7 linked regions of the Homo sapiens genome follow. The protein of the gene in region 1 purifies or fractionates together with the protein of each later gene. This does not show direct contact. Each region holds a gene or a part of one and is shown in the gene's direction. Other genes may lie near its edges.

Region 1 (4,344 bases):
TGGGCCCGGAGGTGGACTTCTCGCAGGGCTATGAGCTGCCAGGGGCCTCCTCGCGGGTAACCTGCGAGGACCTGGAAAGCGACAGTCCCTTGGCCCCGGGCCCCTTTTCCAAGCTCCTGCAGCCGGACATGTCACACCATTATGAATCGTGGTTCAGGCCGACTCACCCAGGCGCGGAGGATGGCTCGTGGTGGGACCTTCATCCGGGCACCAGCTGGATGGACCTCCCCCACACTCAGGGCGCGCTGACCTCACCTGGCCACCCGGGGGCGCTTCAGGCGGGCTTGGGGGGCTACGTCGGAGACCACCAGCTTTGTGCCCCGCCACCCCACCCGCATGCGCACCACCTCCTTCCAGCTGCCGGAGGGCAGCATCTCCTAGGGCCGCCCGACGGGGCTAAGGCCTTGGAAGTAGCCGCCCCGGAGTCTCAAGGGCTGGATTCCAGCCTGGACGGGGCGGCGCGTCCCAAAGGCTCCCGGCGGTCGGTGCCCCGCAGCTCAGGCCAGACCGTCTGTCGCTGCCCCAACTGTCTGGAGGCGGAGCGACTGGGGGCTCCATGTGGGCCCGATGGGGGCAAGAAGAAGCATTTGCACAACTGCCACATCCCGGGCTGCGGGAAAGCCTACGCCAAGACGTCGCACCTGAAGGCGCACCTGCGCTGGCACAGCGGCGACCGTCCCTTCGTGTGCAACTGGCTCTTCTGCGGCAAGCGCTTCACGCGCTCGGACGAGCTGCAGCGCCACCTCCAGACCCACACCGGCACCAAGAAGTTCCCCTGTGCAGTCTGCAGCCGCGTCTTCATGCGCAGCGACCACCTGGCCAAGCACATGAAAACCCACGAGGGCGCCAAGGAGGAGGCGGCTGGGGCGGCCTCGGGAGAGGGCAAGGCCGGCGGCGCAGTGGAGCCCCCCGGGGGCAAAGGCAAACGCGAGGCCGAGGGCAGCGTGGCTCCCTCCAACTGAGCTCCTCAGTGCCGCCTCCCTGCGGGTATCCCGGGGGGCACTGGATGCGAGCCCCCAGGTCTGACGTCCTTGGGGGTGGCTTGAGGAAGAGGGGAAGGTGCGTATTTATTCAGGGAGGAGGAAAAGTGGTGCAGGGACAGGGAGATGGGGCGCTAGGGGTTCTTAGTCTCTGGGGCTACTAGGCAGGATGAATTTGACTGGGTCGGTAGGAGCTGCGCAATGCCCCTCTGTTCTCCCCTGCCTCACAGTTTCCCTCGCCCCTGGGCTGGGGGGTTGGGGTGGGACACCCGTACCGCGGCTGGCTGGCGGGGACAGGCTAGAGGAGACAGCAAGTCCCAGTCCCCGGAGCAGAGAGAAGTGGGGCCGGCCCGGGGCGCTGGTGGTGGCTGTCTGGACACGTCCTTAGCGCCTGGGAACCAGGACATAAAAGCGCCTCCGGAGCCGCCCTGCGGCGGGGTCCCTTTCATCCCACTTAAAGTGCTTCTGCCCCTAGGGTTTCCGGAGGGAGAGCCGAGATGGGATGGGGGAGCCTGGGGGTCCCCCTTGGCAGGGGTGTCTCTTTCTGGTTTGGAGGGTTGTTGCTGTAAAAATAACTCCTTTGATGAGCTTCCTTATTAACCCTTTCAGACCCAGTCTGTTGGAGCCATGAAGGAAGAGGGAAAGAGGGCTGCCATTCCTGACAGCCTCCCAGCCAGGGCTGGCGATAAAGGACCGAGATAGATGGAGGGGGCGAGTAGGGAAGTCCTCTTCTAAAATGAGAGATAGGGATTTGGTGGGGTATGGAAGGAACTAACCCCTTCCCTCTCCACCTCTGATTCAGCCCTTAATTCTTGGTCTATGATAAATAAAGTTCAGTAGTCTCACATTCCCCATCTATTACCCTAGGTGTGTTTTCAAGGCAGCCAGCGGTAGAATCCATGTAGTTCCCACCAGTTGCCTTCCCCTCAGGGATGGAAGGAAGAGGGTTTCTTGGGCTGGTTGAGGGCAGATTGGGGGTGTCTCATCAGAGGGACCTCCACTGGTTCCCACTCAGAGTGGAGGCCTGCAGCCTACCTGACCATCTCTTTAGCTGTCACCAAGAAAATAAACCCCACTGTCTCTCTAGCTTGGCCCTTGTCTTTCCCTTGCCCCTGCCATAGCATGTTCATTAGGGGATTCCTTCCTCCCCCTCATCTCACAGGGGAAGGGAGAGGAAAGAGTTGTTCTCCCACTGGAAGGGGTTCTGCCTTCTGAGGTGACATCCAGGAAGCTGTCCCCATTCCCTTCTCCTTTAGATGCTAGAAACACATTTTGATTCTGATCATGGGGTGGGGGAGAGAGGAAAGGAGGGAGGGGAGAAGCCCAGCAGAAGCTGAGCCAGGCAGAGGGGAAAGAAGCTGATATGAGGAAGGGTCTGACAGGCCACAGCCCTTGCAGCCGGAGGGCTTTCCCACACTCAAGAGAGGGGCCTTACAGTCCCTCTGACACCCCTCCCCCTTCCCCTCGCTCCCTTTCTTCACCCGGAGCCCTCTGCAGAGATTAGCTGTGTATTGATTTTTAAGTTATAAGCAAAGGGTATTTTATTTAATATTAGGTTATGTGTGTGCATGTTGTGTGTACCTGTGTGCATGTATGTGTGTTTCTCTACTGAGCCTGGGGTCTCTAGCCAGGGAGACCCCATCTTATTCACCATGTCCAAGATCCTGGGATCTGGGCCCAGCATCTCTTCCTCCTTTGTAGATGCTGGAGCCCAGCCAAGGTCTGGGAGCTATATGGGAAGTGGGGGCTGGGATCTGGGTGGGAATATGTGTTTGTATACAAAGGGGCCCTCCTTAAAAGGGACAGGATGACCTTCCCGAGGAACTCATTGGCCTGGGGTAGTTTAAGAAGTAATGTTCTTTCTTTCTTTCTCTTTTCCCTACCTCCTGCTAACCCAACCAGAGATCCCCTTCCTTGCTGAGAGGGTTGGGGGCAGGAGGAGATTTGGCAGTGCCTGCAGGTTGCCTGGCCAGGTGGAGAGGGGGAAAGAGGAAGGGCACCGTGGGTGTAAGATGCCTTTCTCCTCCACCCATCGAAACCAGCCACCCCTTCCCTGTGCCACCAAGACAGCCTTTTCCAGTGGCCATCCTAAGGGGAACTCCCAAATGGGTGTTGCTGGTGGACACAGATGCTCCCCCCAATGGAAGCCCCAAGCTCTGAGGTATGCGGGTAGAGGCTTTGGATAGGTTTTCTTCTGCTCCCCTCTTTTATAGATCTAGGCTGCTTGGCTGCCTGTCTTTCTAGGCAGTCCCCCTAGAGGAAAAATGTAGGAATTTATTTTTTCTTTAACTGCTGTGAACTCACTTTGAGGGGGTAGGAGGAGGGAGAAACAGCCTGTGTTTTTTATGCAATAAAGTCATCAACTACATCATGCTTCCTTTGTGTTCCAGCTCTGTTTCCTTTTTGACTCAGTGTCCCTCAGCAGTGAGGACCAGGTCTGGGCCACAGAGTGGGGTGGATGCTTCCCAGTGATCCTGCAGCCCCTTGGAAAGCCTCATGTCTATTGAGTTGGGTTGGAGCTGGGGTCTGATCCTGCCCCAGAGGTGGCTGGTACAGAAGGAGGGAGGTTCTTCCTCTGGGTTGGTACCCGGGCTGTCCCTCCCTGGTCTCATACCTGTGGTTATGAGAAGTTTCTAGATATCTCTTTCCTCTTCCACATACAAGCCCCTTCTTTCCCTTCCCCTGCTAAGAACACTGGTTCCCTCTTTCCCAGGCACTGGCTCCCTCACTCCATCCCCATAGAGGGTGCATGTCAGTCCATCCCCTGCCTGTGACTGAGCTGGGGGTGATTGGCAGTGATTACTTCACCCAGGATGATCCTTATCAGGGACAAGGCGATGAAAGGCAGCCGAGCTATCTGATGGGCTCCTGCCCAGCTGGAAAGTATGAGGGAAAGGCTCCTACTGTAGCTCACAGCTAGAGACCCACCATGGTTACACAACCACAAGGCACACAAACATACCCGCACTGGACCCACGTGCACCCGCCCCCAGAGATATGCAGAAATATCTATCTGTACACATCTTCCCAGGCCTCCCAGTGCTTGATACAAAGTTGGTGCCTAATTCACATCAAATGAGTAGAAAGCCTCATGATTCCAGAGCCCCAAAGCCAGGAAGGTTGACAGAAGATAGGTTTTGGGCTCCAAGGGGGCTGGGGGGCGGGGGTTACTATGTTCTTTCACCTTCTCATTCTACCTTTTTGCCAAAAGTATTATTTTCCCCTAGTGGGATTTCTAGATCCACCACTCTAACCCTAACCCAATTTCTCGAAGCCAAATCTGGTACTCAGGCTGGCCCATCCCATAACTTAATTTGGGATCCTGGGGTCACAACCTTTATGGCTACCTTAGGATAGGGGCATC
Region 2 (4,088 bases), on another chromosome or scaffold:
CCTCTGGCCCACTGTCTGACAAGGCAGCCTGCGCCTTTTCCTTCTGGGCTCTGACTCTTGCTGGGAACCATTACTCTTGATTGTCCTGATGGATGGGACTGGGGGCCTAGAAAATCCCCAGATTATCTCCCCAACCTTCTTTCTTTGGTTTTATTCTGTGTGGGGTGATGCTGTTGGCAGTGGTGCCCAACCCTCCATGTGCTCTGCGGTCCTTCAGGCTCAGTGCAGGAGTGGCCACCAGGCCAGCTGTCAGGATACAGGCTCTGCTTCCCTATCTGTTTGCACGTGGAGCTTCTGCAAAAGATTCAATTAAAGAAAGAATTACATAGCTTAAAGGTGACAAAAAGAAGAGGTTGAAAATTAGTTCTTTGGGCACACACATAGGAGCTGCCTGACTGGAGCTATGCCAGGTCCAGAGAGAATGTTCTTGGACACAGACTGGCTGATGCCACACAAATGCTACTGATGGTGATGCTATCTGTTTGGGACCACCCTTTTCATGAACTTTTTTGAACACCTACTTTATGCCATGCTTCCAGGGAAGAGTCATTTGCCCAAGGTTACACAGCTAGGAGGGGACAAGAGCTCAGTTATTCCCACCAGACTCTGTGTTCTGGGATGCAGGCTCAGGTCTACTTTGCTCACACTAACACCAGTGCCTCCTGGGCCCCTGGCCTGCCTGCAGTGTTTGCTCCATGAGTCTCTGCCCTTCTAGTCCATCCAGCTAGATCCCTCTTTCTTAAAGGATTGGTACCTGGAATGGATCCCCTCTTGGGTGAACTGTATGTTGCCTGACAAGTGAGGATCCTTCAGCCTGCCATTGAAGGACCCTAGAGGCCAAATAAGCCTTGCTACCAGCCTCGGTGAGCCACCCAGCTAGCTCTGTTACCACTGACATTCACTTGTGGCCACCTCCACCTGGGCCTGGGGCTGTGGAAGGACAAGGAGATCCGGCTGAATCTATCCTGGCCATTACATGGGCACTGAGAGTTGACATGTCTATAGTTGTTTTTAATTGTTAAGACAACTCCTTGTGCCAAATTCAAAAGGTACAAAAGGATATTTAGAGAAAAGCAGGGCTGCAGCCTGAAGACAAGCCTGTTGCCTGTGTCTCACTTTTTTATCTGCAAACACCTAGATATCCAAAAAGAACTATTGGTCAACTTAGTTAATTTTTATTTTTATTTATTTTTAGTTTTAGTTTTTTGAGACAGGGTCTCACTCTGTTGCCTAAACTGGAGTGCAGTGTTGTAGTCACAGCTTACTGCAGCCTTGACTTGCTGGGTTTATGTGATCCTCTCATGTTAGTCTCTCTAGTAGCTGGGATTACAGGCACATGCCACCATGCCTGGCTAGTTTTTAAAATTTTTTGTAGAGACAGGGTCTCACTTTGTTGCCCCAGCTAGTGAACTACTGAGCTCAAGTGATCCTCCCTCTTTGGCCTCCAATCTTTGCTAAGATTACAGGAGTGAGCCACTGGATACAGGATACAGAGTTGTTTCAACTCCCAGATCCAAATCCAGCACTTCTTTCCTGTAGTAACATTGGGCAAGCTCCTTAAGCTCTCTCAGTATCAGTTCTTTCATCTATAAAGCTAGCCTGACAGGAACACATGCCTCATAGAGGCGTGATCAAGATTAGGTAACTTAATCCACAGAAACCTCTTAGCATGATACGCTGACACTGAATAACTGTTAGCTGCTGCTATCAGTTTGTTTAATTATTTACATTTTATGTACATTTTCTAAAAGACCAGGCTGGGCATGGTGGCTCATGCCTGTAATTCCAACATTTTGGGAGGCTGAAGTGGGAGGATTGCTTGAGCCTAGTAGTTTGAGACCAGCCAGGGCAACATGAAAAGACCTTGTCTCTATAAAAAATACAAAAATTAGGCGGGCGCAGTGGCTCACACCAGTAATCCCAGCACTTTGGGAGGCCAAGGCAGGCGGATCACAAGGTCAGGAGTTCAAGACCAACCTAGCCAAGATGGTGAAACCTTGTCTCTACTAAAAATATAAAAATTAGCTGGATGTGCTGGCAGGTGCCTGTAATCCCAGCTACTTGCAAGGCTGAGGCAGGAGAATTGCTTGAACCCAGGAGGTGGAGGTTGCAGTGAGCTGAGATCGCACCACTGCACTCCAGACTGGGTGAGAGAGCAAGACTCCATCTCAAAAAAAAAAAAAAAAAAAAAAAAATTAGGCAGGCGCAGTGGCATGTGCTTGTAGTCCCAGCTATTCAGGAGGCTGAGGTGGGAGGATGGCTTAAGCCCAGGAGGCAGAGGTTGCAGTGAGCCAAGATCACGCCACTGCTCTCCAGCCTGGGCAAGAGAGCCAGACCTGTTTCAGAAAAGAAAGGTGGGGCACGGTGGCTCACACCTGTAATCCCAGCATTTTGGGAGGCCGAGGCAGGCGGATCACTTGAGGTCGGGAGTTCGAGAGCAGCCTGACCAACACAGAGAAACCCCGTCTCTACTAAAAATACAAAATTAGCCAGGTGCATGCCTGTAATCCCAGCTACCCCGGGAGGCTGAGGCAGGAGAATCTCTTGAACCTGGGAGGTGGAGGTTGCGGTGAGCCGAGATTACGCCATTGCACTCCAGCCAGGGTAACAACAGCGAAACTCCGTCTCAAAAAAAAAAAAAAAAAGAAGAAGAAGAAAAGAAAATTAGCTGGCTGTGGCATGTGCTACTGGGAAGGCTGAGATGGGAGGACTGCTTGAGCCCAAGTCAAGGCTGCAGTGAGCTGTGTTGGTGCCATTGCACTCCAGCCTTGGCAACAGAGTGAGACCCTGTCTCAACAACAACAACAACAACAATCTGCCGAGAGGGGCAGATCACTTGAGGTCAGGAGTTCAAGACCAGCCTGGCCAACATGGTGAAACCCCGTCTATACCAAAAAATACAAAAATTAGCCAGGCATGATGGTGCCCACCTGTAGTCCCAGCTACTTGGGAGGCTGAGGCACGAGTATTGCTTGAACCCCGGAGGGGGAGGCTGCAGTGAGCCGAAATTATGCCACTGCACTCCAGCCTGGGCGGCAGAGCGAGACACTGTCTCAAAAAAAAAAAAAAAAAAAATACTAGAAGGAAATACACTAACGTATGAACAGTGAAAGATCCTGAATGGTAGGAAAATCTTGATATTTCTTTCTACTTTTCTGTGCTTTCCAAGTCTTTTTTTTACAATGAATATGTCTTCCTTTTATAATCAGAAAAGGAACAGTATATATTTTTTTGAAAGGAATTCTCAGAATCCATTTTCTAGAGATTTGAGTTAGTGGAGTCCTGATAAAGGACACTTTCCTGTACTTACTACCACTGTTGATTATGCCTGTGACCCTGCCAAAAGCCATCGATGTTGCATTTGTTTGCCCCACAGGAGAGCTCAAAGGATGGCTACTGACATGCAGAGGAAGAGAAGCAGCGAATGCCTTGATGGCACATTGACTCCTTCTGATGGACAGAGTATGGAGAGAGCTGAGAGCCCCACACCAGGAATGGCCCAGGGAATGGAGCCAGGTATGGGCAAGTGTACAGCCTCAGCCAGCTGCCAACCAGAGCAGTCTCCAGGGGGAATTAGGATTCCCAACCACTTTTTCCTTTCCACTTATTCATGCATTTGTCAGTCACTCATTGGATATTTGTCAGGTTCTGGGGATAAGGCAGGAGGCCAGGCTCATTCTGCATCTGGCTTTCCTCTCCACTTCATGTTATGCTGCTCGCCCTGAGCTTTCTGGCTGCCATTGTGGGCTCTTCTGTTCCCTGTGTCTACAGCGCACCTCCCCGGCTCCTTCTCCCCTCCTCACGAGTTAGGCCTGCTCTGACCATGCTCTGTATAGCACACTAATTATTTCATAATTTTATCTCTTTATGCATATATTGCCCATCTCTCTCTTCCACAAGATTGTGAACACTTTGAGCGCAGAGCAGTTATATCCCCAGTGCCTGGTACAGGGCTGAATTCGCAAGAGAGACTCAAAATATATCTGTTAAACTATTTTGTCAAAAAATCAATAAAGGAAGACTGACCTGGTCCCTGCCCTGAGGCAGTCACAGGCTGCGGCGCCATTATAGTGGGGTCAGTCAGGAGC
Region 3 (4,655 bases), on another chromosome or scaffold:
AAAAAAAATGTCACTCTGGTTCCTTTGCTGAGAATTTGTTGGGAGAGTGGGAGAAATAGGGAGGAAAGGCATTAATTCTCCAGAGAGAAACCCAGGATCTGGGGCTCTTGCAGGCTTAGAGCTGGCCTGGAAGGGGCTGGTTAGCCAGCCTGATTCTGCAGGAATGTCTGAGGTCTCAACCTTCGTTTCCCCAGTAGGTATTGTCTTCCCAGTGCCCAGATCTGCCCTCAGGAGGCAGATCCGCTGCACCTCTGCCCGCTGCACGCTACATTCCCATTTCACAGAGCAGCAGACTGAGGCTCAGAAAGGGTGACTGGTCTAAGCTCATGTGTCTGGGCAAGGAGAGGAGGCAGAGAGCCAAGTCCCCTTGGGCGCTGAGCCCAGTGCTGGGTGCTGGGGTGATCTAGAGATGTGCCTCATTCAGACTTTGGTTTTTCTTTTTTTTTTTTTTGAGACAGAGTCTTGCTCTGTCGCCCAGGCTGGAGTTCAGAGGCGCGATCTCAGTTCACTGCAACCTCTGCCTCCCAGGTTCAACAGACTCTCCTGCCTCAGCCTCCGGAGTAGCTGGGATTACAGGTGCGTGCCACCACGCCCGGTTAATTTTTGTATTTTTTAAGGTCGAGGCGCGGTTTCACCATGTTGGCCAGACTGGTCTCCAACTTCTGACCTCAAGTTATCTGCCCACCTTGACCTCCCAAAGTGTTGGGATCACAGGCGTGGCCACAGCGCCCGGCCGACTTACCCTTATTTTAATGCAGTTGATTTAACTGTACGATTACAGAATTTACCTGTAATTTTTTTGTTCATGTCAGAAGAGTAATGTGCCGATGTCGTAACAAGGTTTGAGGGAGGCACATCTCACGCATGCGCGTGAACACCCAATCATCCCGCTTAGAAACTACAAAAGGATCTAGCTGTAAGTTTAAATTATGGCTTCGTGTAACAATAACCAGCTCACAAATCCCTGAATTTTTAATGACCTGCACATCAGTGTCCCACCTGTGGGCTGTTCTGTGTGGTAGAGCCCACGTTGTGCTGGGGCGGGGAGCGGGCTCAGAAGCCTGCCATCTAAAGTCTAGACACTTCACTTTATTTGAATTGATGAAAATTCCGTTACGTATGAGCAAAGGCATATGAAGAAAACAAAAAAACAAAAAACAAGAAATAAGATTAAGCTCCCTTCACTCTCAATTTTAATCAGCCCAGGCCTCCCCCATTCCAGAAATTTGGACCGACCCTGACTCCGCCCCAACCTGTTCTAGCACCGCCCCTTCCCCCGCCGGCGCCGTCGTCATGACAACCGCGTCCACACGCCCTCTTCTCCTAGGTGTGGGGGAAGGCTGGCCCTCAGTGCTCCCATTGGCCAAAAGTTTGTAGAGGGCGGGCCTCGCTCACTCTCATTGGTCAGTTGCTCGCTGTGGTCCCATCCCACATGCTTCCATTGCTTGATTCCTCGAAAAGGGCGGGGACTCTGGGCAGCGGTTGTGGAGTGCCGCGGGTCCACAGTGCTGCACTGAGCAGAGAGGAAGGGGCGTCCCGGGATATTTGGAGGATAAAGGTGTGGGCAAGGTATCATGTGGAGGCAAAGGGGCGAGAAGTGAGGGGCGGTGAGAGGGGAGCGGGGCGGGCAATGTGTGCGATTCCCAGAATGTCTTTTCCGCAGGGTGATGACCACACCTGCCGGCTCCGGCAGCGGCTTCGGCTCCGTGTCCTGGTGGGGCCTGTCCCCGGCGCTGGACCTGCAGGCTGAAAGTGAGTCCCAGCACGCAAGGTCTGATACACCGTCTGCCTTCCCAGCCTGAGCAGACGGCCTTTTAGAGCTCGTAGTCCCAGCGTCGGTGGCAAGGGGGGCGCTAACGTTCTCCAACGCTCCAGCGGCAGAGGGCGCGCTCCCAGGGGCAGCCCCGAGGTCCTGTCTGCGGACTGCGAATCCCAGAATACTCAGAGGAAACACCTCCCCTTAGAACCTAGGCCACGGGCGGAACGCCTACTGGGATTTGTAGTCCATTTTTTATAGGGGATGCTACGGTGGACGCTCTGCCAACCACCATGGTGCCCCAGCCAGCTGTCATCTTGCCAGGTCCTCCTGTGGACCCAGACTCCCAGGCCGATACAGTGCACAGCAACCCCGAGCTAGATGTGCTGCTTCTGGGCTCTGTGGATGGACGGCACCTGCTGCGGACCCTGTCCCGAGCGAAGTTCTGGCCTCGCAGGAGGTTCAACGTGAGCTGGGATGAAGATGAGAGCCCAGATTCCCGAGTCCTTGAGGGAGGAAGGGATTGAAATTCTAAAACCTCAGGTCCAGGAATGAAGGGGCTGGAGACTCCTAGATCTGAGGGAGGCAGAAGCTGGGAGCGAACCGATGCGTCTTGGGGGAAGGAAGGGGCTGGGGTTTGGAACTCCTGGGTTCTATAGTGGGGAAGAGCTCGAGGATGAGGTCTTCTGAGTAATGGAAGGGAAGAGAGCTCTGGGGACACAGACTTCTGTGTTTGAAGGAAGAGGCTGGTGTACAGAACTCGGGTGTGTGGAAGGAGAGAGCTGAGGGCCTGCTCTCCTGGGTCTCCTAGGACCCAGGCAAACAGGTCTCAGAATTATTCTGCCCTGTCCATCCTTCTAGTTCTTTGTGCTGGAGAATAATCTGGAAGCTGTGGCCCGACACATGCTGATCTTCAGCCTAGCCCTGGAGGAACCGGAGAAGATGGGGCTGCAAGGTCTGTTGCTAGGACCCAGGCATTCTGACCGCTGGTCTCCTCCCCCTCCCTAGAGGGATTCTGGCATTTCAATGGTACAATTAAAAAGTTTGGTTATTTTCCTGGGAGGCGGAGGTTACAGTGAGCCGAGATCGCGCCATTGCACTCCAGCCTAGGCAACAAGAGCGAAACTCCGGCCGGGCGCGGTGGCTCACGCCTGTTAATCCCAGCACTTTGGGAGGCCGAGGCAGGAGAATGGCGTGAACCCGGCAGGCGGAGCTTGCAGTGAGCTGAGATCGCGCCACTGCACTCCAGCCAGGGTGACAGAGCGAGACTCCGTCTCAAAAAAAAAAAAAAAAAAAAAAAAAAGAGAGCGAAACTCCATCTAAAAACCAAAAATGTTTGGTATTTTCCAGTGTGGTACCTCTGATGAAAAAAAAAATCCAATATATTTATTGATGATGGTCCCCTCTGATGTAATTTGCCATCTTAGAGCCTCAGCTCCTCCTACCTGTAAAATGGGGCTAAATATAATACATCTTAGAGCCACTTAGAAAATTCCAGGAGAGGCTGGGTGCAGTGGTTCACACCTGTAATCCCAGCACTTTGGGAGGCTGAGGTGGGCAGATCACGAGGTCAGGAGATCGAGACCATCCTGCTCAACATGGTGAAACCCCGTCTCTACTAAACATACAACAATTAGCCGGGTGTGGTGGCAGGCGCCTGTAGTCCCAGCTACTCGGGAGGCTGAAGCAGGAGAATCACTTGAACCCGGGAGGCAGAGGTTGCAGTGAGCCGAGATCACACCACTGCACTCCAGCCTGGGCGACAAAAGCAAAACCTCCATCTAAAAAAAAAAGAAAGAAAGAAAAAGAAAACAGGTTTGTTTGTTTATTTATTTATTTATTTGAGGCAGAGTCTTGTCCCGTTGCCCAGATTGGAGTGCAATGGCACGATCTTGGCTCTCCATAACCTCTGCCTCCTGGATTCAAGCAATTCTCCTGCCTCAGTCTCCCAAGTAGCTGGGATTACAGGCATGCACCACCATGCCCGGCTAAGGTTTTGTATTTTTAGTAGAGCCGGGGTTTCACCATGTTGGCCAGGATGGTCTCGAGATGCTGACCTCAGGTGATCCGCCCGCCTTGGCCTGCCAAAGTGCTAGGTTTACAGGCGGGTGCGATCACACCCGGCCCCAAGAAAAGAGGTTTAATTGACTCACAGTTCCACAGGCTGTACAGGGAGTATGGCTGGGAAGGCCTCAGGAAACTTACAATCATGACAGGAGGCGAAGGGGATGCAGGCATCTGTTCCACGGCAGGAAAAGGGGCAAGAGAGGCAGTGGGGAAGAGGCGCACACTTGCAAATAACCAGATTTTGTGGGAACTCACTATCACGAGAACAGCAAGGGAGAAATCTGCCCCTGTGACCCAATCACCTCCCACCAGGCCCCGCCTCCAATATTGGGGATTACAATTCAACATGAGATTTAAGCAGGGACACAGATCCAAACCATATCAGTCATTAATGACCCAGGGAATTCAGAGTACATTGCACAGTACAGATTGTTCAAAGTTCTTAAACAGTTAGAACTAAACTGATCTATTTTACTAAAGGCACATAGTTCTCTTCTATTAAGTTCTTAAACAACTAACATGAAACTATTTGTATGTCTATGTGTATATATATTATATGCAAAGGTATATACAGTCATCCCTCAGTAACACTGGGGACTGGTTCCAGGACCCCTGCAGATACCAAGATCCAAGGATGCTCAAGTCCCTTATAAAATTGTATAGTATTGCCAGGGGCGGTGGCTCACGCCTGTAATCCTAACACTTTGGGAGCCTGAGGTGGGAGGACTGCTTGAGACCACGAGTTTGAGACTGGCCTGGTCAACATAGTGAGACCCCGTCTCTACAAGAAATAAAATATTGGCCGGGCGCGGTGGCTCACGCCTGTAATCCC
Region 4 (4,088 bases), on another chromosome or scaffold:
TGCAGTCATGTGACCTACTTGACATTTTTGGTGGAATCAGCTTCTTCCCGTTGGATAAAATGACTTATTTGAAAATCCAGTCCTTTATTAATAGAATGGAGGAAAGCCTGAATATAGTCAAATACACTGCTTTTCTCTATAACGATCAGCTCATCTGGTAGGTACACCCCGAGGCATGGTATTAAAAGAAGAAATTAAGATAATAAAAACAGCAGTGACTGGATTGATGACAGGTTGTCAAACAGGAACTTGCAGCGGGGAGGATGGGTAGGAAGCATCTTCATAGATATTGTCAAAATAAAGCAGTGATTATTTAAAGCAGAACTAGGGTGATTTGGGTTCAAATTTCCAAGCAGAGGAGTTTAAAACTGGTTGCATGAAAGATGAAAGGCTGGGCACGGTGGCTCACACCTGTAATCTTAGCACTTTGGGAGGCTGAGGCGGGTGAATCACGAGGTCAGGAGTTGGAGACCAGCCTGGTCAACATAGTGAAACCCTGTCTCTACTAAAAATACAAAAAGTAGCTGGGCGTGGTGGTGCATGCCTGTAATCCCAGCTACTCAGGAGGCTGAGGCAGGAGAATCACTTGAACCCGGGAGGCGGAGGTTGCAGTGAGCCGAGATGGCACCACTGTACCCCAGCCTGGCAACAGAGAGAGACTCTGTCTCCAAAAAAAAAAAAAAAAAAAAAAAAAAGAGAAAATGTTCCTATCAAGTAAGGTTTAGGAATCCTGTTTTTATTTTGGAGTTTTTTTTTTTTTCTGAAATGATAAAAGCAGAATTTTTATACCTTTTTTTTTTTTTTTCTTTCTTATAGAGACGGGGTTTACTGTGTTGCCCAGGCTGGTCTCAAACTCCTGGCCTCAAGCGATCCACCCGCCTCAGCCTCCCAAAGTGCTGGGATTACAGGCACGAGCCACTGCACCTACTTTCTTTTAAAGAAACTAGATTTCTTTTTTTTTAATCCAAGAAATCCAAAGTGTTATATAAACCAGGAAATTACCTGCTATCGTGAAACTAGGTTTGTGTCCTGCAGTAGGAACAACGTGGGCACAAGACTGCCCAGCATATGTGACCCCTGAGAGCTGGGTGGCAACCGAGGTTGTGCACATTTGGCCTAGAGTAGGTGGACAGAAGTCATCAAGGCTTGCAGCTGTTCTGGGACCCTCAAGTTTTATGTTCCCGTTGACTAGAGCCCACTTTCTTTCTTTCTTTTTTTTTTTTTTTTTTGAGACGGAGTCTCACTCTGTTGCCAGGCTGGAGTACAGTGGCGCGATCTTGGCTCACTGCAACTTCCCCTTCCTGGGTTCAAGCGATTCTCCTGCCTCAGCCTCCCAAGTAGCTGGGATTACAGGCATATGCCACCATGCCCGGCTAATTTTTGTATTTTCAGTACAGACAAGGTTTTACCATGTTGGCCAGGCTGGTCCTAAACCCCTGACCTCAGGTGATTCCCCTGCATAGGCCTCCCAAGGTGCCTCGATTACAGGTGTGAGCCACTGCACCTGGCCTAGCCCAGTTTCTTAATTAGGGGTGTGGCCATATGGTACTACTATAAGGTAAATTCAGCTAATAGAAAAGGCAAAACTAGTTCCCCTAAAATTTACCTTCCCTGCCAAAATCTTGTAGCTCCATTTTAAGAAGAGAAACAAGTTACTGTAAAGAAATTTGAATCCAGTTAATAAACAACTTGGTGGGTTTCCACATGAACTTTATCTCCTAGGAAGACAACAGAAATTTCGGGTGAAACCCATCTACTTTTTTTTTTGTTTTTGAGATGGAGTCGCTTTCTGTTGCCCAGGCTGGAGTGCAGTGGCATGATCTTGGCTTGCTGCAACCCCTGCCTCCTGGGTTCAAGCAATTCTCCTGCCTCAGCCTCCCGAGTAGCTGGGATTACAGGTGCATACCACAACACCCAGCTAATTTTTTTGTAGAGATGGGGTTTTACCATGTTGGCCAGGCTGGTCTCGAACTCCTGACCTCAAAGGATCCGCCCACCTTGGCCTCCCAGTGCTGGGATTACAGGTGTGAGCCACTGTGCCCCGCCTCCACCTACTTTCTAATTTGACAAATAGTTTATCAGGCAACCTTACACTGTACTGACTCAGCTATAGTTGCTTTCTGTGATATGTACACAATGTTACTAAAGTGAAATTCTGCTGTGAAATGTAGGAGATGGGAGGCTAGTTGTGCTTCTGTAGCATCAGGTCTGCAGAGGGATGGCTCCTCCACAGATGGAAATGACAGGACGTGCTTGCAAGTCACACGCAGCCACAGCGATAGGGAGATGTCATGTGACAAGCCAGAATCCAGCAGTAGTGGCCCATGGCCTTGCTTCCACCAAAAAGAGAAGGGTAGCTGAGATTCTGATCTCTGGGACAGAACACAAGCCCCGCCATGGGTGCAAACTCCTGAGAGTGAGGAAGAGGGAAGGCTTAGAGCAGAGGGTCTTCCAGGAGCTCATTCTGGGAGACCCTGGAGCCAGAGTGACCAGCAGGGTTGGCCCTTTGAAGCCTGGAGTCACAGGACAATCTGGCGCCCAGCTCTGGGGATCCTGTTGGCATCGTCATCTTGGAATAGCATCTGAGGGGTTGAGCAGGGCACAGCTCTGGTGGCTGCACAGAACTGTTCTGTTGTCACCTCCAGTGTGCTCGTGGGGAAAGGTCAGTCCCAGGAAGTAGCAACAAAAATAACCTTCAAGCAAAACAGGCGCCAATGCTTACACCTGTCATCCCAGCACTTTGGGAGGCTGAGGCAGGAGGATCACTTGAGACCAGGAGTTCAAGACCAGCCTGGGCAGCATAGTGAGACTGTATCTACAAAAAATGGAAAAAAAAAAAAATAGCTGGGCATTGTGGTGTGCACTTAGAGTCCCAACTACAGAGACTACAGAGGTTGAGGCTGGAGAATCACTTGAGCCTGGAAGTTTGAGGTTGCAGTGAGCTATGATAGCACCACTGTACTCCAGCCTGGGTGACAGAGCAAGACCCTGTCTAAGAAAAAGAAAAACAGCACGTTTTGACGGAATTGCTTATTCCAAAGCTGTTATATTAAATACCAAAAAGACTTTTAAGCCAGGCGTGGTGCACATACCTATAGTCCCAGCTACTGGGGAGGAGGAGGCAGAAGGATCGCTTGAGCCAGGAGTTACTTGGAGACCAGCCTGGACAATATAATGAGGCTCTGTCTCTACCAAAAAGTGGAAAAAAAAACTTGTCACAAGCAGAGTATATATTACCCTTATGTATTTACTTAGTATATTGCTTTGATTTTTTTTTTTTGAGACTGAGTCTCATTGGCTTGGTTGCCCAGGCTAGAGTGCAGTGATGTGATCTCAGCTCACTTCAACCTGCGCCTCCCAGGTTCAAGCGATTCTCATGCCTCAGTCTCCCAAGTAGCTGGGATTAGAGGTGTGTGCTATCAGGCCTAGCAAATTTTTATATTTTTTAGTAGAGACGGTGTTTCGCCATGTTGGCCAGGCTGGTGTTGAACCCCTGACCTTAGGTGATCTGCTCACCTTGGCTTCCCCAAGTGCTGGGATTACAGGTGTGAGCTTCCGCGCCCGACCACCTTCACGGTATTTCAGTGATCTTGAATAGAAAACGCCCAGATCCAGCCTCATTGTCTGTCTCCTTTTAAAAAACCGGTTCCAGAGTCTGATACCTGCTAGTTTCTCTGTGCTTTTTCCATGTGCTGCTCCTTCCTGCCTCATTTCAGATCAGGTGGTTTGCCTGAAAGCTTGTTTTTCTCCTCCTCCTCTTTCTTCACCGAAGATCCGGAGAATTAAAATCCATGTACATTTCTGAGACCTAGGATCACGTTCCCTGTCTACAGCATACCCATATTTTCCCAGGGGACTAGGGGAGAGAATGTGGCATTACCATATAACCCAGGAAGCTAAGAGACATCTGCTCCTAAAATGAAACAGTGTGGCTTTGGAGGTTTCCTGCATAATCCTACACGGAATTCAACCAGCGAGTCCAATCCCTTGTGACTTTTTTTTTTTTTTTATCTCAAATGGCATGTAAAATACAGGACTGTAGGAGTAGCCTTTTGCAGGTCAGGATAAAGTTCCAGTGCCTGGACTCA
Region 5 (4,088 bases), on another chromosome or scaffold:
TGTTTCCAAAAAAAAAAAGAGACACAGAGAGAGAATTGATGGCTATAGCCAAGTGCCTCAATCCATCAGTTACTTACTGAAAGTCATTTCTGAGGGGGTTTTGGGATGTTTCTTATTAGTGAAAGGGAACAAGACCTAGATAACATGCATGAAATTTTTTTAAATGAATATTAAATTTTATAATAGAAATTTTGGTAGAAAATAGAGAAGATAAATAAAACATTTTAGCATATGTACATCCTATCCCTAGATTCACAGATACATTATTTTTTCTGTTGGCATATGTTTTGTGATCTACTTTTTCACTTACTGTGTGGTTACTACTTCCCCATGTCGTTAAATAGTCATATATAATTTTTAATGGTTGCATAGACTTTGTTCTAGCCAGAAGATGTACTGTGGTTTGACCAATCCCCTCTTATAGGGCATTTAGGTTATTTTGAGTATTTTCTATCAATACAGCATTGGACATCTGCATAGATAAATCTGTCGACATAATTCTGATTATTTCCTTAGGAGAGAGTGCTAAAAAAAAAAAAAGGACTTGCTGGTCAAACAATGTACATATTTTTAAAGGCTATTGATAGATATAGCTAAATTCCTCTCTAGGAATTCTATATTAAGATAATAATTATTTCACCAGGCATGGTGGCTCATGCCTGTAATCCCAGTACTTTGAGAGGCTGAGGTGAGAGGATCGCTTGAGGCCAGGAGTTCAAGATCCCATCTCTACAAAAAGTAAAAAAAAAAATAGCCAGGCATGGTGGTACGCACACATAGTCACAGCTACTCAGGAGGCTGAGGCAGGAAGATCGCTTGAGCCTAGGAGTTTGAGGTTACAGTGAGCTATGATCATGTCACTTTACTCCAAACTTGGTGACAGAGTGAGACCCTGTCTCAAAATAAAAAAGATTCTTAAAAAGAAAGATAACTGTTAGAATTCTAACTGTAGTCAAATTGTGTCTTACACCATTCTGACTTAACTCTACAGTCAATAGTATGAAACTCAGCTCTGTAAATGGGGAGGAAACGGAAGGTTATTAGTAACTCACGAAGTACATAGTATCCTTTCAGCTAGAAAAGGGGAGCTTAAGGAGTACTATTGCAAATTACCCCAATGTTCTAATTGTTCAAATGCAAATTTTTGTTGATTAGTTTTTATTAACATGAGATAGTGCTGTGTACCCTATATGAAATATATTATGTGATTTTGTTGTAGTGTTTATATTAAAATGAAATTATGTGATTTGAATACTGAATTTTTTGCATATTGAAATGTTTTCCTTTTTTTACTTTTAGCCACATAAAGAAGATCCCTAATAGTCATTTCTCAACAATTATATAGTCAACTGATGTAACAATGGTACTAATATTGGGACGCAGACTAAACAGAGAGGATCTTGGGGTGCGTGATTCCCCAGCAACTAAGCGAAAAGTTTTTGAAATGGACCCCAAATCTCTGACAGGTCATGAGTTTTTTGACTTCTCTTCAGGATCATCCCATGCCGAAAACATACTCCAGATATTTAATGAATTTCGTGATAGCCGCTTATTCACAGATGTTATCATTTGTGTGGAAGGAAAAGAATTTCCTTGCCATAGAGCTGTGCTCTCAGCCTGTAGCAGCTACTTCAGAGCTATGTTTTGTAATGACCACAGGGAAAGCCGAGAAATGTTGGTTGAGATCAATGGTATTTTAGCTGAAGCTATGGAATGTTTTTTGCAGTATGTTTATACTGGAAAGGTGAAGATCACTACAGAGAATGTACAGTATCTCTTTGAGACATCAAGCCTCTTTCAGATTAGTGTTCTCCGTGATGCATGTGCCAAGTTCTTGGAGGAGCAACTTGATCCTTGTAATTGCTTAGGAATCCAGCGCTTTGCTGATACCCATTCACTCAAAACACTCTTCACAAAATGCAAAAATTTTGCGTTACAGACTTTTGAGGATGTATCCCAGCACGAAGAATTTCTTGAGCTTGACAAAGATGAACTTATTGATTATATTTGTAGTGATGAACTTGTTATTGGTAAAGAGGAGATGGTTTTTGAAGCCGTCATGCGTTGGGTCTATCGTGCCGTTGATCTGAGAAGACCACTGTTACACGAGCTCCTGACACATGTGAGACTCCCTCTGTTGCATCCCAACTACTTTGTTCAAACAGTTGAAGTGGACCAATTGATCCAGAATTCTCCTGAGTGTTATCAGTTGTTGCATGAAGCAAGACGGTACCACATACTTGGGAATGAAATGATGTCCCCAAGGACTAGGCCACGCAGGTGAGAAGACTGTTTTCAAATATAGTTAACAAAAGTTTTTAATATATCTTTAAACCTCCTGAATGCAATCTCAGTGTTGTCATTTATATGCACTGTCTACCTGTGGCTGTATATAATTTTAGATTTATTTTGGATTATATGTCACTAGAATGTCTTTCCTAGTGAATTCTAGATTCAACAGTAGCATTTTTTGTTATTGTTGTTTTGTGCTATCAAACAGTGTAGCAAAGGGTCTTTGCAACTGTGCATATCTCAACATATTTCTACTAATTTCTCTTAACCTTTGTAGGGCCCCAAACCATTCCACTTTTCTTTCCAAAGAGTCTTTGGATACAGGGTAGCTAAGATTTTAGTAGGCTCTCTTGGACTGCCTCTACTTATAAAAAAACAATTTGCTCCTGGGCACAGGGGCTCACACCTATAATCCCAGTACTTTGGGAGGCCAAGGTGGAGGAGCGCTTGAGCTCAGGAGTTCGAGACCAGCCTGGGCAACATAGCGAGACCTCATCGCTACTAAAAATAATTAGCCAGGCATGGTGGCACGGACCTGTAGTCCCAGTTACTCAGAAGGTTGAGGTGGGAGGACTGCTTGAGCCCAGGAGTTTGAGGATGCTGTGAGCCATGCTCTTACTGCTCTCCAGCCTGGGCAACAGAGTGAGACTCTGTCTCAAAAAAAAAAGAAAAAAAAATGTTTGCACATCCACAGACTGGCCTTTGTCCTAACACAGAAGCATGAAATATAGAGGTGAATTAAATAAGCTGGTATACATTGAGTGAATTCTGAGATGTAAAATCCAGGCCTCAAATATTACTTAATTGTCACAGTTATTATATTTAATGTCAATCTCAATTTTAAAAAATCTTTTTTCTGAATGTGAAAATTACATCATCATTATAGAGAATTTGGAAAATGTGTGCTTAGGGGGTAGAATGCAGTTAAATATTGTAGCATATTTGTATCTTCTTCCAGTATATTATTTCTATAAAATACTTATCGATTTTAATTCATAAACTATAGAAAAATAATCTCCATGCCTTAATAGTGGAAGGAATATTTATTGTGAATAAGCAAGAAATGCTTGTTATGAGAAATATTACAGTAAATTATCCTTTTAATCCTTTTAATATTTTTCTAACAAAGCTAATGTTGGTGTTGGTTTTTTTTTAATTGTGGTAAAAAACACATAACATAAACTTTACTGTCTTAATCATTTTTAATTATACATTTCAGTAATGTTAAGTATATTTACATTGTTGTGAAACTAGTATTTTTATTAGTTTATTATTGGTTTATTATTAAGCCATCTCCATTTTTTCTGTGAATTTACTATAGCATAGCTCATAAACCACATTTTTACTTAAATTTTGACTATCATTGTTTCGGAATGTTAAAAGTCAGCATACTGTGAGATAGCTTGTTTTTAAAATTTATACTAGTTTGAATAATGTATTAATTAAGAAAACTAAACAGCTTCAGAGCTGTGTGACTATTAGTTCTTCGAGAACTTTCATGAACACACAGTATCCCTCTAAAGGGAAAATCACTCCTTTTTCCAAGACAAATACCCCTGTAGCAGACTGAATGGTCTGAGGTCAGATGTGGCTAATAATACTCAGCCTGCATATCTCATAGGATTAGAGTAGGAACCAAGGGTTATATGTTGTAAAATCAAAATAAGACATTGATTACTAATATTTATAAAGACATAATTTGAATGCAATCAGATTGCAGCCTAAGGGTCCCATCACTCCTTTGAAGAGATACTTCTCCTAACTTACTTAATTATTTGATTTCCAAAAATGTATTT
Region 6 (4,088 bases), on another chromosome or scaffold:
AAAGTCATGCAGGTTTTGCTAGGCTTTCTACTTAGGGTCCCACAAGGCCAGAATCAAGAGATTGGGCTAGGCTTTTGTCTGGAGGCACTGGGGAAGAAGCCACTTCCAGGGCCATTTAGGTTATTGATAGAATTCAGTTCCTTGTGGCTATAGGACTGTTTCTCATTTTTATTGGCTGTTGGCTACAAGTCACTGCCAGATCCTTCCCACATGTTCCCCCCCACCTTCAAACAAGCAATGGCACACTGCATTCACTTGGTTTTTTGAATTTCTGACAATCAGCTGGAGAAACCTCTCTGCTTTTGAAGGTTTGTTTGATTAGATTAGGCCCGCCAAGGTCACCTCCCTTTTGCCATATAATGTAGCATAGTCATGAGAGTAACACCAGGGGATGAAGGTCATGGGGGATGAGGAGTATCTTAAAATTCTGCCTACCACAGCGAGGTGGGCAGTGAGTTTCATTTCAGATTAAAGTTAAGGTTGAAGAGCCAGCAAGACATATTTGAGGTAGAAATTGGGTATATGTCTGAAAATATATATTTGAATTATCACAAATCTGTGGAAAGAATGGGATATGCTTAGGGAGAGAAAGTGTAGAGTGACCCTTAGGGAACTTTATAATTTAATGATGGAGTAAAGAAGGCACTGATGAAGCTGAAAAGCACTAGCCAGAGACGTAGGAGTGGACTAAAACGTATGATGTTATGAAAACCAAGAGAGTTTTGAGGAGTAGGAAATAAGCCAATGATGTTGTCTGCTTTTGTCCTTTAAGGGGAGGGACAATTATGAGGCATACTTACTTTATTTCCCTGACCTAACATCGTTACATTCTAGAGAACACATGTACTTGTTCTCACACACCTGAACATTTTTATCAGCACAGTATTTGGTAAGTCATAGCTTTATACCCAAGAGAAAAGAGGTTGAGGAGCTTGAAAGTGAATGATAACATTATCCTTAAGAATTCTTTTGTTGGATACTCTCTGGTAAATTTAGAGTTAGAATCTCAGTGAAGCAGCTGCTTTCTCCAATAATAATAAAAGCTAATACTTCATAGAACTAAATATGGGCCAGACATTGTTCTTAGTGCTTTACATGTATTAACTCATTAATATCCATCTATGTCTCAGATGAGACACAAGATAGTAGAGGTTTATAAATTATCCAAGCTAGTGACAAAATAATAGTTTGATAATAGTTCAACTTTTGATTGGTGCAGTGTGTTTTTTAAGAAATTGAGTTTTTTTTTTGATCACTGTTAAATCAGCTTTTAACATGGGCTAAGTCTCTTACTTTTAGAGAGAAATAAATACGCTTCAGAAATAAAGCAACGTGACATAAAACTTGTAATATAAAATTTAATACTCTTTTGTGTGGTATAATGAAACCCTGCAACAAAATGAGCTCTGTAATTGCATGGATTTGTAAGTGAGATTGGCTTCTGACCTCCGCTGCAGAACTTCTCTGTCAACTCATTAACCTCTCAGTTATGCCGCTGTGTGTGCACTAATTGAATATTTTGAACTCTTTTATACTATTTTGTTGGGTTATATTTTATTGTTTTGAGTTTAAAGTAGCCTGTGTAGGCTATGCACTGTACAACTTCAGGGGGCAGTATTCACATAGAGTTGCACAGTTTGGCAATTCTGTAGCCATCTAGTCAAAAGCTTTGATAGATCTAAAAATAATGGAAACAAACTATACTGTTTGAAGGTTAACATGATAAATGATTTGCATTAGCACAATTTTTTATATGACTTTTTTTCCTGGAAACAAACTCATTTGCTAAAGTATGTTTTATTGTCTTTGCAGGCGAGGAATTGCCTTGGCTTCCTTAGGAGGCCCAATTTATGCAATTGGAGGGTTAGATGACAATACTTGCTTCAATGATGTGGAGAGATATGACATAGAATCTGATCAGTGGAGTACAGTGGCACCAATGAATACTCCCCGTGGAGGAGTTGGCTCTGTTGCTCTAGTAGTAAGTTATATGGCAACTTGTCATTAAATTACATTGCATTACATTCATAACCAAAATAAGGAAAGGTCCAATATATCATCACCAGTATGAAGATATTATATATCATATTATTTCCTGAAATACTGCCTTGTACATTCTAATTTACCATTAAAACAATATATAAATAAATTCGAAATCTAATGTGTTTTGTTTGACTCTCTTCATTTAGAACCATGTTTATGCAGTAGGTGGCAATGATGGAATGGCTTCTTTATCTAGCGTGGAGAGATATGATCCACATCTGGATAAGTGGATAGAAGTTAAAGAAATGGGTCAGCGAAGAGCAGGCAATGGAGTTAGCAAGCTTCATGGTTGCTTATACGTAGTTGGTGAGTAAATGGGTATTTCTCTAATATATCAGTATATACAATGACAAGTGTCATATAACAGAGTAACAAAAATTACATTGCATTTAGCCTTAAGTAGAATCGGTCCTGAAATGTGCTTTTGAATTCTTTCTTACAAAATTTTGTTTATAATTAACAGAGAATTGTACATGTTCAGTCTGATGCTTTTGAATTCTTTGTTTTTTTTTTTTTCAGAGGGAGACAGTGTCTTTCTGTTGCCCAGGCTGAAGTGCGGTGGCACAATCGTAGCTCACTGCAGCCTTGAACTCCTGGGCTCACATGATCCTCCTGCCTCAAGCCTCTCAAGTAGCTAGGACTAGAGGCCCAGGCTATCACACCCAGCCAGTTTTTTTCTGTTTTTTGTAGAGATGGGTTCTTGCTGTGTTGCCCAGGCTGGTCATGAACAACTGGCCTTAGGTGATCCTCCTGCCTTGCCCTCCCAGAGTGCTGGGATTACAGGCATGGGCCATCATGCCTAGCTGAATTGTTAAGGTCACATTCATAATTTTTGTTTAAATCTTCATCTTTCATGTTTAAAACATGTACAGCCTTATTTTTCTAAGAGTAACAAATTTATTTAAAGAAGGGGATTACATTTAAATAAGGTATATGTTTTTAAATGGAAGGACACAGATTGAATGTGCTTTGCTACAATAAATTTTAAAAGGTCTCAGATTTGTTTTTCTCAACCTCATTTCAAGGGAAATTATGTTGAATACTTCAAGTAAGCCAGTAGGTATTTATTTATTTATTTTTGAGATAGAGTTTTGCTCTGTCACCCAGGCTGGAGTGCAGTGGTATGATCTCAGCTCACTGCAACCTCTGCCACACATGTTCAAGCAATTCTCCTGCCTCAGCCTTCTGAGTAACTGGGATTACAGGTGTGTGCTACCGTGCCCAGCTAATTTTTGTATTTTTAGTAAAGACAGGGTTTCATCGTGTTTGCCAGGCTGATCTTGAACTCCTGACCTCAAGTGATCTTCCTGCCTTGGCCTCCCAAAGTGCTGGGATTACAGGCATGAGCCACCACACCTGGCCTAGGTATTTCATATAAATAAAGGTCATGTCAATGTTTATATTGCTTTTTTTTTTTTTTTTACTTTAACAATCTTTTATTACCAAACCCCATGCAGGTTTAACGCTTTAACCCACCTAACAGCAAAAAAAGGCATTGCTAACAAGATCAAGGATGAAGGTACAGACCCAATAAAGATTGTGTCTTAAAAAAGAAGGATATATATATATGTGTGTGTATATATATGTGTGTATATATACGTATATATATACACATATATATACACACACATATATACACGTATATATACACACATATATATACGTATATATATACACATATATATACGTATATATATACACACATATATACACACATATATATACATATATATATCTTTTAAAAAATAAAAATCTCCAGTGTTGCAGAAAAAAATATTATAAATTGATTTCAGTCCATAAAAAACAGCATGCAGCAGTTTGTGCTATCTTAAAAACCCCAACTCAGGATAACCCTAGGAGAAAATCACCTCCCCCCATTAAAGAAGAATTCTCTTTTCTATTCTTTCTTGTCTAAATTTCACTGCTTATTCCACAAAACGCCGAAAGAATAACAAGACTCAGTTCACATCCCTCAGCCCTTGTCTGTCTGTTAAGGCCAACACCAAGCGCTGTTCCTTAGGAGTCTTCACCTTTACTACAATCAG
Region 7 (4,088 bases), on another chromosome or scaffold:
TGAGGCTGCCTGGCTTTGCCTACAGTCCCCCTCCCTGTACTACAACCTCAAAGCTCCCTTAAGCAGTAGGCTGTAGGAATTGTAGGGCTTACCTTATTTGTTCCCCATCTCTCAGACTCACTGTCCTTCATTGCCTAATACCTAGTGCCTTAAAAACTATTGTTTAAGGCCAGGTGCGGTGACTCACGCCTGTAATCCCAGCACTTTGGGAGACCGAAGCAGGTGGATCACTTGAGGTCAGGAGTTCGAGACCAACCTGGCCAATATGGCAAAACTCCGTCTCTACTAAAAATACAAAAAATTAGTTGGGCGTGGTGGTGAGTGCCTGTAATCCTAGCTATTCAGGAGGCTGAGGCAGGAGAATCACTTGAACCCAGGAGGCGGAGGTTGCAGTGAGCTGAGATCACACCACTGCACTCCAGCCTAGGCAACACAGTGAGACTCCATCTCAAAAAAACAACAACAAAAACAACAAAAAACTATTGTTTCATATGTTTTGTGGGAGTGTTTTCTGGTTGTTTCAGGTGGGGTGGTACATCAGTCCCTGTTACTTGTTGTCAATGAAAAGAGTCAAACTTATGGCCAGGCATGGTGGCTCACGCCTGTAATCCCAGCACTTTGGGAGGCCGAGGCAGGTGGATCACCTGAGGTCAGAAGTTTGAGACCAGCCTGGCCAACATGGTGAAACCCCGTCTCTACTAAAAATACAAAAATTAGCCAAACATGGTGGTGCACACCTGTAATCCCAGTTACTCGGGAGGCTGAGGCAGGAGAATCACTTGAGCATGGGAGGAGGAGGTTGCAGTGAGCCGAGATCACGCCACTACACTCCAGCCTGGGCGACTCTGCCAGAGTCTCAGCCAGTGTGAGACTCTGTCCCCCTGCCACCAAAAAACAAAAATAAAAGAAAGAAAGAAAAAAGAAGAGAGTCCAACTCTAAAATATTTGAAGAGCTTTATTCTGAGCCAAATATTCAATTCAGTGAGACTACCTGTTTTTGCCTACAGTTTCCCTCCCTGCACTACAGCCTCGAAGCTCCCTTAAGCAGTAAGCTGTAGGAATTGTAGGGCTTACCTTATTGTTCCCCCATCTCTCAGACTCAATGACCAATGGCCCATGACACAACCCTCAGGACATCCTGAGAACCTGTGCTCAAGGTGATCAGGCTACAACTTGGTTTTATACATTTTAGTAAGACATAAGACATTAATCAATACATTTAAGATGTACATTGGTTTGGTTTGGAAAGGAGGGACAACTGGAAGGGGTGGGGGTGGTTGGGAGGGGTTGGGGGTAGCTTCCAGGTCATAGGTAGATTCAGAGGTTTTCTGATTGGCAGTTGGTTGAAAGAATTAAGTTATTGTGTAAAGACTTAGAATCAATAGAAAGGAATGTCTGGGCTTATGATAAGGGTTTGTGGAAACCAAGATTTTATCATGCAGATGAGGCTTCCAGGTAGCAGGCGACAGAGGAGATTGCAAATGTTTCTTATCAGACTTAAAGAGTCAGTTCAACAAAGTTTGTGTTGATGTTAATGCTGGTCAGCTAGGCCTGAATTCCAAAAGGGAGGAGGGTATAATGAGGCATGCCTGGTTCCCCTTTCCCTTCGTGGCCGAACTAGTTTTTCAGATTAACTTTGGAATGCCCTTGGCCAAAAGGAGGGATCCATTTGGACGGTCTAGGAGGCTTAGAATTTTATTTTTGGTTTACATAATGTCTAAAAATTAATACGTTCTTTTTCTCCTTGCTAAAAGGTAAGTTGTTTCATGTTTGCCAGCCATTTATACCTTATTAGAGATGAATTTATGAGCTAAGTGACCGAGAGTAGGTTAGATTGGGAGAGGGCATATACTAAACTGTTTATCCAAGGTGGTGTGAAAAGGAAAGTAAAAGTGTAGGACTCTAACATAATCACTTACACCACTGATTTGTCTAGGGCAGATTATCTCTGGATAATCTTAGAATTCACCAAGAAGCAGAGACAGAAGTGACTCCCTGTGTTGTGGTGCTTGCTAATGGAGTGCGGCCTTTTTCATGTTTTCCTTCCCTAGGACCAGTGTACCATGAGTACTGTGAGTGTCCGGAAGATCCTCAGGCCTGGCAGAAGACTCTTTCTTGTCCAACCAAGGAACCACAGATTGCAAAAGATTTTGCTTCCTTTCCCAGCATCAATCTCCAGCAAATGCTAAAAGAAGTCCCCAAAAGGTTTGGGGATGAGAGAGGTGCCATTGTTCATTACACGATTCTCAATAACCATGTTTACCGGAGATCTTTAGGGAAATACACAGACTTCAAGATGTTCTCTGATGAGATTTTGTTATCATTGACAAGAAAGGTAGGAGAATGAATGAATTGATAATACAGTTTAATTATTTAGGTATAACATTTAAATGTTTAGAATTATAATGACAAAGGATGAAACAGATTTCAGGCTGAGAAATGGGCATCTAAGATATTTGCAACCTGAGTGTTCATCATGTTCTCCATCTTTGTGGATCTTACTTTCCTGTAAGATTTAAAATTAAGTGGCTTGAGGCCAGGCATGGTGGCTCATACCTGCAATCACAGCACTTTGGGAGGCTGAGGCGGGTGGATCATCTGAGGTCAGCAGTTCAAGGCCAGCCTGGCCAACATGGCAAAACCCCATCTCTACTAAAAATACAAAAATTAGCTGGGCGTGGTGGTGGGCGCCTGTAATCACAGCTACTCAGGAGGCTGAGGTAGGAGAATCCCTTGAACCCAGGAGGTGGAGGCTGCAGTGGGCCAAGATTGCGCCACTGCACTCCAACCTGGGTGACAGAGTGAGACTCCATCTCAAATAAATAAATAAATAAATAAATAAATAAATAAATAAAATAGAATAAAGTGGCTGAGCCCCCATCCCAGGTAGGTATGCCATACAGGACACTCCCAAGCTTTCTTTGAGCTTCCAGAGATTTATAACAAGGTTACTTCTTATTCTTTTTTTCAAATAGTCTATATTTACAATATCCAAACAGAACAGTCTCATTTATTTATTTATTTTTAAATAGGGATGGGGTCTTGCTGTGTTGAGCAGGCTGGTCTCAAATTCTTGGGCTCAAGCCATCCTCCTGCCTCAGCCTTGATCCTAGCTGGGACTATAGGCATGCACAACCATGTCAAGAGGCCGCTTTAAGTTCTCTGTTCCGCTGAATACTACTCCTGCTTAGATTTCACCTTCTGCAGCTGTTTTCTTCTCTTCACCTCAAAATGACTTGAACTTAGAACACATTTTCCTTGTTTTACCCTAAGCATACCTAGAAGATAGCGTGCATGGGACATTTTGTCAAAGCTTGGGCTACCAGAAACAGGTTGTTTTTTTTTTCACCAGTGCATACTAAAAAACAAACAAACAAAAACCCTGATATTTAAAAATAGACATCTCTGCACTAATCAGACTCTCAGTCATACTTGCCTCTGGGAATTTCTCAGGGCTGTCCTTGACCTTAAGTTCTTAGCCTCTCACTAATGTGGTTAGGCCCTCTGTTTTTCAGGCTCCCCACATCCCCCAATAGCGCCCCCTTATCTCACTATTCAGCCTCTCTTTCCACATTTGCAGAACTCTAAATTCCTCTTAAGCAGAGCAACTTAAACCACCTTTTGTTCTTGTTTCTGATCATACAGGGTGAAGGATGGAGGTGGGCAATATTTATCTTTCTTACTTAGAGAGACCATAAAGGGAGTTTTTTTGTTTGTTTGTTTGTTTGTTTGCTTTGAGATGGAGTCTCACTCTGCCACCCTGGCTGGAGTGCAGTGGCACGATCTCGGCTCACTGCAACCTCTGTCTCCTGGGTTCAAGCGATTCTCCTGCCTCAGCCTTCTGAGTAGCTGGGATTACAGATGCACGCCATGCCTGGCTAATTTTTGTTTTTTTAGTAGAGAAGGGGTTTCACCATGTTGGTCAGGGTGGTCTCAAACTCCTGACCTCGTAATCTGCCCGCCTTGGCCTCCCAAAGTGCTCAGCATGAGCCACTGCGCCTGGCCAAGGGAGTTTTATAAACCAAAAAAAACACAGTTTTCCTGATATGTTATACAATTCCCCAAGTATGCTGACTGTGTGGCTGCAG

Evidence for each region.
Region 2: the proteins of SP6 (region 1) and MON1A purify together in Homo sapiens (affinity purification with mass spectrometry; 3 studies listed by BioGRID and IntAct, with this or other methods). This does not show direct contact.
Region 3: the proteins of SP6 (region 1) and DNAAF3 purify together in Homo sapiens (affinity purification with mass spectrometry; 3 studies listed by BioGRID and IntAct, with this or other methods). This does not show direct contact.
Region 4: the proteins of SP6 (region 1) and CCZ1 purify together in Homo sapiens (affinity purification with mass spectrometry, with the first as the bait; 3 studies listed by BioGRID). This does not show direct contact.
Region 5: the proteins of SP6 (region 1) and KLHL24 purify together in Homo sapiens (affinity purification with mass spectrometry; one large-scale study listed by BioGRID and IntAct). This does not show direct contact.
Region 6: the proteins of SP6 (region 1) and KLHL8 purify together in Homo sapiens (affinity purification with mass spectrometry; one large-scale study listed by BioGRID and IntAct). This does not show direct contact.
Region 7: the proteins of SP6 (region 1) and POGLUT3 purify together in Homo sapiens (affinity purification with mass spectrometry; one large-scale study listed by BioGRID and IntAct). This does not show direct contact.

What each region holds. Positions count from the first base shown.
Region 1 is NC_000017.11:47,843,917-47,848,260, reverse strand, and holds the end of SP6 (transcription factor Sp6), read left to right. Parts: coding exon 1-962; 3' UTR 963-3,353; downstream 3,354-4,344. UniProt on the Homo sapiens protein: Promotes cell proliferation. Plays a role in tooth germ growth. Plays a role in the control of enamel mineralization. Binds the AMBN promoter.
Region 2 is NC_000003.12:49,912,648-49,916,735, reverse strand, and holds part of MON1A (vacuolar fusion protein MON1 homolog A), read left to right. Parts: intron 1-3,376; 5' UTR 3,377-3,389; coding exon 3,390-3,516; intron 3,517-4,088. UniProt on the Homo sapiens protein: Plays an important role in membrane trafficking through the secretory apparatus. Not involved in endocytic trafficking to lysosomes.
Region 3 is NC_000019.10:55,163,426-55,168,080, reverse strand, and holds the start of DNAAF3 (dynein axonemal assembly factor 3), read left to right. Parts: upstream 1-1,667; coding exon 1,668-1,752; exon of another isoform or gene 1,753-2,017; coding exon of another isoform or gene 2,018-2,080; coding exon 2,081-2,223; exon of another isoform or gene 2,224-2,233; coding exon of another isoform or gene 2,234-2,299; intron 2,300-2,617; coding exon 2,618-2,711; intron 2,712-3,280; exon of another isoform or gene 3,281-3,537; intron 3,538-3,572; exon of another isoform or gene 3,573-3,994; intron 3,995-4,655. UniProt on the Homo sapiens protein: Required for the assembly of axonemal inner and outer dynein arms. Involved in preassembly of dyneins into complexes before their transport into cilia.
Region 4 is NC_000007.14:5,905,113-5,909,200, forward strand, and holds part of CCZ1 (vacuolar fusion protein CCZ1 homolog), read left to right. Parts: coding exon 1-157; intron 158-4,088. UniProt on the Homo sapiens protein: Acts in concert with MON1A, as a guanine exchange factor (GEF) for RAB7, promotes the exchange of GDP to GTP, converting it from an inactive GDP-bound form into an active GTP-bound form.
Region 5 is NC_000003.12:183,648,997-183,653,084, forward strand, and holds part of KLHL24 (kelch-like protein 24), read left to right. Parts: intron 1-1,299; 5' UTR 1,300-1,360; coding exon 1,361-2,280; intron 2,281-4,088. UniProt on the Homo sapiens protein: Necessary to maintain the balance between intermediate filament stability and degradation, a process that is essential for skin integrity.
Region 6 is NC_000004.12:87,168,340-87,172,427, reverse strand, and holds part of KLHL8 (kelch-like protein 8), read left to right. Parts: intron 1-1,812; coding exon 1,813-1,981; intron 1,982-2,189; coding exon 2,190-2,349; intron 2,350-4,088. UniProt on the Homo sapiens protein: Substrate-specific adapter of a BCR (BTB-CUL3-RBX1) E3 ubiquitin ligase complex required for The BCR(KLHL8) ubiquitin ligase complex mediates ubiquitination and degradation of RAPSN.
Region 7 is NC_000011.10:108,484,404-108,488,491, reverse strand, and holds part of POGLUT3 (protein O-glucosyltransferase 3 isoform 1 precursor), read left to right. Parts: intron 1-2,051; coding exon 2,052-2,335; intron 2,336-4,088. UniProt on the Homo sapiens protein: Protein glucosyltransferase that catalyzes the transfer of glucose from UDP-glucose to a serine residue within the consensus sequence peptide C-X-N-T-X-G-S-F-X-C. Can also catalyze the transfer of xylose from UDP-xylose but less efficiently.